Regions from separate parts of the Homo sapiens genome. Here region 1 is linked to region 2. The links come from fine-mapping of genetic effects on gene expression. A gene starts in region 2. The other region holds a variant in brackets. All regions are shown on one strand. Distances are from middle to middle. Region 1 overlaps PMM2 (phosphomannomutase 2). Region 2 holds the start of CARHSP1 (calcium regulated heat stable protein 1).

Region 1 (4,216 bases), 36 kb after region 2:
TGCTTTAATACTTTTAGAGGCCGTAAAAATCACAAACTATGCTCAACTCACTCTCTACATTTCTCGTAACTTCCAAAATCTACTTTCTTCCTCATACCTGATGCATATACTTTCTGCTCCCCGGCTCCTTCAGCTGTACTCACTCTTTGTTAAGTCCCACAATTACCATTGTTCCTGGCCCGGACCTCAATCTGGCCTCCCACATTATTCCTGATACCACACCTGACCCCCATGACTGTATCTCTCTGATCCACCTGATATTCACCCCATTTCCCCATATTTCCTTCTTTCCTGTTCCTCACCCTGATCACGCTTGATTTATTGATGGCGGTTCCACCAGGCCTAATCGCCACATAGCAGCAAAGGCAGGCTATGCTATAGTACAAGCCACTAGCCCGCCTCTTAGAACGTCTCATTTCCTTTCCATCGTGGAAATCTATCCTCAAGGAAATAACTTCTCAGTGTTCCATCTGCTATTCTACTACTCCTCAGGGATTATTCAGGCCCCCTCCCTTCCCTACACATCAAGCTTGAAGATTTGCCCCCACCCAGGACTGGCAAATTAGCTTCACTCAACATGCCCCGAGTCAGGTAACTAAAATACCTCTTACTCTAAGTAGACACTTTCACTAGATAAGTAGAGGCCTTTCCTACAGGGTCTGAGAAGGCCACCGCAGTCATTTCTTCCCTTCTGTCAGACATAATTCCTCAGTTTAGCCTTCCCACCTCTATACAGTCTGATAACGGACCAGCCTTTACTAGTCAAATCACCCAAGCAGTTTCTCAGGCTCTTAGTATTCAGTGGAACCTTCATATCCCTTACAGTCCTCAATCTTCAGGAAAGGTAGAATGGACTAAAGGTCTTTTAAAAACACACCTCACCAAGCTCAGCCTCCAACTTAAAAAGGACTGGACAATACTTTTACCACTTTCCCTTCTCAGAATTCAGGCCTGTCCTCAGAATGCTACAAGGTACAGCCCATGTAAGCTCCTGTATAGACGCTCCTTTTTATTAGGCCCCAGTCTCATTCCAGACACCAGACCAACTTAGACTGTGCCCCCCAAAACTTGTCATCCCTACTATCTCCTGTCTAGTCATATTCCTATTCGCCATTCTCAACTACTCATACATGCCCTGCTCTTGTTTACACTGCCGGTTTACACTGTTTCTCCAAGCCATCACAGCTGATATCTCCTGGTGCTATCCCCAAACTGCCACTCTAAACTCTTGAGGTAAATAAATAATCTTTGCTGGCAGGACTATGCTGAATCTCCTTAGGCACTCTCTAATCAGATGTCATAGGTCCTCCCAATTCTTAGACCTTTTATACCTGTTTTTCTCCTTCTCTTATTCCATTTAGTTTCTGAATTCATCCAAAACCGTATCCAGGCCATCACCAATCATTCTATACGACAGATGTTTCTTCTAACATCCCCACAATATCACCCCTTACCACAAGACCTCCCTTCAGCTTAATCTCTCCCACTCTAGGTTCCCACGCCGCCCCTAATCCCGCTTGAAGCAGCCCTGAGAAACATCGTCCATTCTCTCTCCATACCACCCCCTAAAAATTTTCACCGCCCCAACACTTCAACACTATTTTATTTTTCTTATTAATATAAGAAGGCAGGAATGTCAGGCCTCTGAGCCCAAGCCAAGCCATCGCATCCCCTGTGACTTGCACGTATACATCCAGATGGCCTGAAGTAACTGAAGATCCGCAAAAGTAAAAAT[A/G]GCCTTAACTGATGACATCCCACCATTGTGATTTGCTTCTGCCCCACCCAAACTGATCAATGTACTTTGTAATCTCCCCCACCCTTAAGAAGGTTCTTTGTAATTCTCCCCACTCTTGAGAATGTACTTTGTGAGATCCACTCCTGCCCGCAAAACATTGCTCTTAACTTCACCGCCTATCCCAAAACCCATAAGAACTAATGATAATCCACCACCCTTTGCTGACTCTCTTTTGGGACTCAGCCCGCCTGCACCCAGGTGAAAAAAACAGCCATGTTGCTCACACAAAGCCCGTTTGGTGGTCTCTTCACACGGACGCGCACGAAACCCTCTACCCGCCAGGCATTGCTTTAGCAGCTGGGGATACGGCGCAAACCAAAACCACATCACAGCTGCCCTGGGGAGACCAGTCATCAACAGACAGCTCTTGGGCGCCTTGTTGAGCAAAGGGAGGGAAGGGCTGCCAGGCCTGGAGGGTGAGGGAACCCTGGCATCTGAGGGACGTGAGGGCACAGGCCATGTGGCCATCAGAGAAGACGCTGAAGAGGGAGGATGGGCAGGGGCTGGGGCCGGGCCACAGCGGGCCTCACAGATTGTGGTAAGCACCTGGGATTTCACGGGTAGCCGCCTGAAGCCTGCAAGCCCGGGCCATGATCAGATTACTTTACAACAGGATCTTTCTGGAGAACGGGTGCGGGGTGAGGACGCAATTGAAGGGAGCAGTTAGGAGGCTCCTGCAGCCGGCCAGGGTGCAAAGAGGACAGAGGCCATTACCTGGGAAGAGACCCCTGAAGCAAAAAGGGTTTATGCTAGTCCCCTGACAGTTGCTAGGCCTGCCCTTCCCTGCAGATGTCACATGCAGGGACAGAGGCCTAACGGCACGAGTCTCCTCCCGTGGTCCTGCTGGGGGCTGGTGGGGAGGTGTCTGTGGAATCTGAGTGATCTGTGTGCATGTAACTCGCTGACACTTAATAAAGCTAGGTCTGGAGAATCAATTCCCATCCAGGAAGGTGAAATCCTCCCGACCCTGGCTGCAGGAGCCTCTCTGGGTTGCTTCTCAGCTCCACCCGCTTTCAGAGAGCCGCACGGCTCGCAGGAGCATCTGCATCACAAACACAACCTGCCTCAGGCCTTCCTTTCTCTCCCGCCAAGGGTCTGCTTCTTTCTTTGTGACTCTCAGAGCATGGTGGGCTCCTTCCTGGGGTGCAGCCTTCTTGGGGCTGTGTCGAGCTTGCATACCAGAGTAGCTGCAAAGCAAGTGAAGCGGACCCCAAATGAAATGAAAGGAAAGCTGGCTGCCCTCTAGAATAATAAGGCTAGAGAACCGGAAATTTCAAATGCTGGATTTGCATATGCACTAAAGGTTACTTGATTCTAGTTGGGGAACTCAGCCACCTCCCAAGCTCCAAGAACAAAAACCCTGTTCCCTGGAGAAGGGAGGGAAGGGGGGAGGGAAGAATGAACGATCCAATTTCTCATTATAGTGTACCTGACAGGCACCAAAGAGAGGCCAGGGCTCAGTGAAATCCGCGCATTAATATTTAAATCCCTAATAGTCCCAAAGTCTGAGGATGAAACAGAAGGCATAGTGTTGGCCATGTTCAGATGCCAGGGGGCTGATGAGTCTCCCCACCGCAGCCCATTTCTGTACATGCTGTTGCTGACCTGTGCAGTGTAGCAGTGAACCCCAATCATCCAAAGAGAGGAACAGTGTGATCTATCACAGCCTGCGTGAACTGCTTCGCTGGTAGCAGTGGGTGTGTGCTGTGTGGATGCCTCCTATAGCACAGATGGACTCTCTGTAGCTCGTGGTCGGGACTCTTATTTATTTTTGAGACAGGGTCCCACTCTTGCCCAGGCTGGAGTGCACTGGTGCGACCATGTCTTGCTGCAGCCTCCACCTCCTGGGCTCAAGCGATCCTCCCACCTCAGCCTCCTGAGTAGCTGGGACTACAGGTGTGCACCACCATGCCTTATAGTCGATTCTTGCTATGGATGTTTATTTTGGTTGTTTAACAAGTATTTATCAAATTTCTAGGTATTATGGATGCAGGGACTGAAACCACATTTGCAAAAATTATAACTGAGAAAATGTTAACAGTGAAAGAGATCTGGCCTGACTCCATCTTGCTTCTAACCTCCAAGCTGTCCTTGTTCATTCCAGGGCACAGGCTGAACTAACCTTGGGAGGAATTCAGTTTATAGTTCAACTTTGTTTTTTTTGTTTTTGGAGACGGAGTCTCACTCTGTCACCAAGGTGGAGTGCAGTGGCACACTCTCGGCTCACTGGAATCTCTGCCTCCCAGGTTCAAGTGATTCTCCTGCCTCAGCCTCCCGAGTAGCTGGGATTACAGGTGTGCACCACCACACCTGGCTAATTTTTGTACTTTTAGTAGAGGCGGGGTTTCACCCTGTTGACCAGGCTGGTGTCAAACTCCCGGCCTCAAGTGATCGGCCTGCCTCAGCCTCTCAAAGTGCTGG
Region 2 (4,505 bases):
CATATTTTCAAGGTTCCTCTATGTTGTAGCTTGCATCAAGATTTCATTCCTGTTGATGAGTGAATAGTTGTCTACTGTATAGATACACAACATTTTGTTTATCCTTTCATCACTTGATGGACATCTGAGCTGTTTCTCCCTTTTGGCTACTATGAGTAATACTGCTATAAATCTTACTCTGTCACCCAGGCTGGAGTGCAGCAGTGCAGTCACGGATCACAGCAGCCTCGATCTCCTGGGCTCAAGGGATCCTCCCACCTCAGCCTCCCCAGTAGCTGGGACTACAGGTGGGTGCTACTACTCCTGGCTAATTAAAACTTTTTTTTTTTTGGTAAAGAAGGGGTCTTACTATGTTGTCCAGGCTGGTCATAAACTCCTGGGCTTAAGAGATCCTCCTGTCTCGGTCTCCCAAAGTGCTGGGATTACAGGCGTGAGCCACCACGCCCAGCCCAACAAGTAAATCATTATTTATCTATTTATTTATTTTTGAGATGGAGTCTTGCTCTGTCGCCCAGGCAGGCTGGAGTGCAGTGGCACTATCTCGGCTCATTGCAAGCTCCGCCTCCCGGGTTCACGCCATTCTCCTGCCTCAGCCTCCCGAGTAGCTGGGACTACAGGGGCCCGCCACCGCGCCCGGCTAATTTTTAATATTTTTAATAGAGACGGGGTTTCCCCGTGGTCTCGTTCTCCTGACCTCGTGATCCGCCCGCCTCGGCCTCCCAAAGTGCTGGGATTACAGGCGTGAGCCACCGCGCCCGGCCTATTTATTTATTTTTAACTTTTTTTCCCCCCCGAGACGGAGACTCGCTGTCGCCCAGGCTGGAGTGCAGTGGCATGATCCTGGCTCACTGCAACCTCCACCTCCCGGGTTCAAGTGATTCTCCTGCCTCAGTCTCCCAAGTAACTGGGATTACAGGCACCCGCCACCAAGCCCGGCAAATTTTTGTATTTTTCATAGACACGGGGTTTCGCCATGTTGGCCAGGCTGGTCTCCAACTCCTGAGCTCAAGTGATCCTCCTGCCTCGGCCTCCCAAAGAGCTGGAATTACAGGCGTGAGCCACCGCACCCGGCCTCAAGTAAATTTTTGTGTGGACAAACATTTTTATTTCTCTTGGGCGCGCAGACACCTAGGAGTGGAGTTGATGGGTTTTATGGAGACTCCAGGGCTCGTGGTTTGAGGAACCGCCGGGCTTTTTCCACAGCAGCTGCGCGGTTGTTCCCACCAGCCGTCTAGGACGGTTCCTTGCCTGGCTTGGACTAGTTGGTTTCGCTGCTGGGCCTTTTCCCCAGTGGCCCCAATAGGGGCTGCAGAGTGAGGCAGGCACAGTCCTCACCGCCGCCTCCGGGGGCCCTGTTGTCCCGGGCGAGCTCCGGGGACCTCTCTCCTTCCCCGCGCCCCTCAAATACCAAGCTGACCCTGGTCCCGGGATCTAGGCTCGCCTTCAGGGGCTGCTCTCGACTGGCCGTGCCCATGGGCTGGTCGCCTCTCTGTGCCTCAGTTTCCTCTCCTGCAAAACAGAGGTAACATTTTTTACCTCCAAAAACAGAGGACTCAAGGAAGGCTAGAAATGAAACAAGAGAAGAGAACAAAATCAAAATCCCCAACGAGAAAACAAAACCCTGTTTTTCTGGTGTGTGTGTGCGTGTGTATTTTTTCTTTCCCTTTTCCTCCTTTCTGTTTTTTGCTTGTTTTCTTCCGTCTCTCTTTTCATTCCTTTATTTCCTTTCTGCTAAAAGTGACACCCTCCGGGATTATACAGATTTTAGAGCCAAAGGCAGGTGGGAGCCGCACCTGGCGCGCGTGGCGAGGGGAAGGAACTGCACGGGCGCAGGGACACAGTTCCCCCACTTTGCAGGGGCGTTTTCTGCTGGTGGGTGCAGCCCAGCTCCGCCCCGCCCCGCCCCGCCCCGGCCCCTACGTCCCGCGCTCTGCGTTCCGCTCTCCCGCCAGTCTAAGGCGCGGACACAAAGGTCCTGTCCGGGCCACTCCCGCCCCGCCCGCCCCCACCGTCCCGGGCTCCCTCCCGCAGCCCCATTGGCCGGGAGCTCCTGGGGGCGGGGATCGGCGCCCCACCCCCCCTCGGGCCACGCCCCCTCCCCAGCTCCGCGCTCTCAGTCGGAGCGAAGCGGCTGGCGGAGCAGAACGGATTGCAGGGTAGGGAGCTCTTCTCGGGGACCCCAGGATAGGCGCCCCTGGCCCGCGGCCCCGGGAGCCGCAGGGGTGGGGCCTCGGCCTCCTCTGCCTCCATCGTCCCCCATCCTGCAGGGTCTTCTAGCTCGGCAGAGGAGGGCTCCGGGCTGGGTTTCTCGGGGCCTGTTTGGGGAACGCGGGTTGCTCCTCCCCAGGGGAAGGGGTGGGTGTGGCAACAGCGGCAAGGATTCTAGGCGGACGTCGGGTAGTACTTCCCGCCTGGCCACCTGTTCTCTGCGTGCAGGGGAAGCTCTTCCCGCCCTCCCCGCTGCTTTTGCCTTTGGGCGGGAGCCCTGGACGGGGGACTCGCCGGGCGGTGGGGCGAGGCGCGGGGGGCGTCGCACGCGGGAAGCAGAGCCACCCCCCGCCGGGCCTGGCCGCGCCAGCTGTGGCTCGAGGTTGGGACGGCGGCCAGGCCCGGCGGGGGAGGTGGGGAGCCGTCCTGGCGCCGCGCGATTAGCCGCATCTGGGGGAGGAGGAGCCGCCGGGCGCGCTGGGCCCGGGTGTTTGCGCCCGGATGGGGGTGGGGGTGCCTTAGGCGCTGGAGAAAAACTTCACCCGCGCCCACAGGCCCCCTTTCCGCAGGCTGCGCTGGCGGTTCAGGTTTGCAGGCCGGAAGTGAAATGTTCTTTTTTGATTTTTAAAAAGGAAGCCTCCGGCCCTATGGTTTTCTGGGGTTGGAGTGGATGTGTGTGCTGGGGGAGGCGGAGACGTCCCGCTCCAGGCAGGGCCTTGGGTCTTAATAGGTGGGGAAATCTCTGCCAAATAGGAGGCCTCTCGGAGCCTCAGTTTCCCCATCTGCAGACTGGGCTCTGACTTCTTCTGGCATGAGAGGGTGTGTGAGAGTAAAAGGAGGCAGCTAGCCCCGTGCCGGGAGACACGTAAGCTACTGTTTTTTAACTTGCTGTTTTGATATTTCTCAGTCTCTCTGTGCCCAGTCTTGCTTGCCCCTGTCATTTGCTGCCACTCTGAAGCCAGAGGGAACTTAGAAAAACAATCCGCTTAGATCTACCCCACGCTGAAAATCGTCCACCGAAGTCCCATTGTCGTCTAAGTCCCCAACTTCTCAGCAGGGCTTCCTGTTATCTTCCGCCACTACCTTCTCCAGCCTCTCTCTGCCTCTGTTCTCCCTCCCTTCGGGCCTTTGGCCCTCCTCTGGGCTCGGGGTCCTCCTTGGAGACCCCACCGCCCTCTGCACTCCCTGGGTGGCCTCGGTGATGACCGTGAGTTCTCGATGCTGGTCCCTTCAGGGCAAGAAAGAGGCGCAGAGCCCGGCTGGGAGTAGATGTTTTCAATGAGCTGAGCTAGGCCTGGCGTGGGGCCATGGGGTGGGGTTGAGGGTGGTTGACGGTGGGTCCCCTAGGTAGGGGATCGGTCTTTGTTCCACCGAGTGGCAAAGCCAGCGCATTTGGTTTGTGTTCCATCAGCAGGGGCAGGAATGGGAGGGAAGGTGATTTCAGATGGGCCCGTGCCTGACACTTCCACCATCAGCCGCACTATTGTGGACTGAGCCCGCCGTGCGCTTGGCATTTTCGCGGCACCATCTGCACAGCGTCCGAGCCCTGCGACGCAGCACCGCTCCTGTCCCCTTTGACAGATGAGGAAACTCGGGTGGGGCGGTGAAATCGCCTGGCAGGGGTCACAGAGGGAGTGGGGACCAGTCAGGGCTCAATCTCAGGTCTGAGCCAAAGCCCCCCGAGAATGGAGGGAAGGATGGAGGGATTGAGTGGGGGAGGCGTGTAGAGTAGGGTTCTTGTTGAGAAGGAGGGCTTGGGCTTCCCGCAGGAGGGGCAGTCCAGGCTGAGAACTGGGGCGGGCGCAGGGTCCCAGGTGGGTGGTGGCGGTGGGGTGACCGTCTCCCTGCTGGGTGGGGTCGCCCGTCCGGTCGAGGCCGTCCAGGGGTGCTAATGGGGGCACAGGCAATGGCAATGTTGGAGGCCCCCTTGGGTTCCCGGTACACTCCTCGGGTTTCCGGCCTCTTCCCAGCACTCAGGGGCTCCTGAGGGCGGAAGAGCTATTCCCAGCTTGGCGGGGCCTGGGAGGGGGCTCTGGGCAGACGTAGGCGCCGGGCTGCACCTTCCCTGCCCGCCTGTTTGCACTTCTCTGTGACTGTTGGCTTCAGGTCCTTAGCCAGCGGAGGGCTGACTCCGGCCTGGCTGCCCCCTCCCCTTTGCCTCCCGTCCCTCCCCCTGGACACTCCAACCCCCATCCCTTCGTGTCCCTCCCCCTCCTCTCTCTCTGCTCCTCCCTCGCCAGACCCCCCGCTCTCCCCGGAACAATGGAGGGGAATGTGGCTAGGCCAGCCTGACGCTG

Evidence for each region. PIP is the estimated chance that this variant, and not a neighbour inherited with it, causes the effect.
Region 1: its variant is the best candidate, but not a certain one, in a credible set for the expression of CARHSP1 in lung (TOPMed, PIP 0.54).

The regions. Positions count from the first base shown.
Region 1 is chr16:8,830,887-8,835,102 of GRCh38, reverse strand. The region is part of intron 7 of PMM2 (phosphomannomutase 2); the gene reads right to left. Among named protein-coding and RNA genes, the nearest start is that of PMM2, 35 kb to the right of the region's middle. The variant A/G (reference allele first, on the strand shown) is at 1,736.
Region 2 is chr16:8,866,617-8,871,121 of GRCh38, reverse strand. CARHSP1 (calcium regulated heat stable protein 1) reads left to right here and starts at 2,116. Exons shown (of 4, transcript NM_014316.4): 1 at 2,116-2,156. It overlaps CARHSP1-DT (CARHSP1 divergent transcript), which reads right to left and starts at 1,841. Exons shown (of 2, transcript NR_186721.1): 1 at 1,794-1,841; 2 at 1,083-1,509. RefSeq lists a silencer at 1,794-2,753 and enhancers at 2,894-2,953, 3,959-4,505.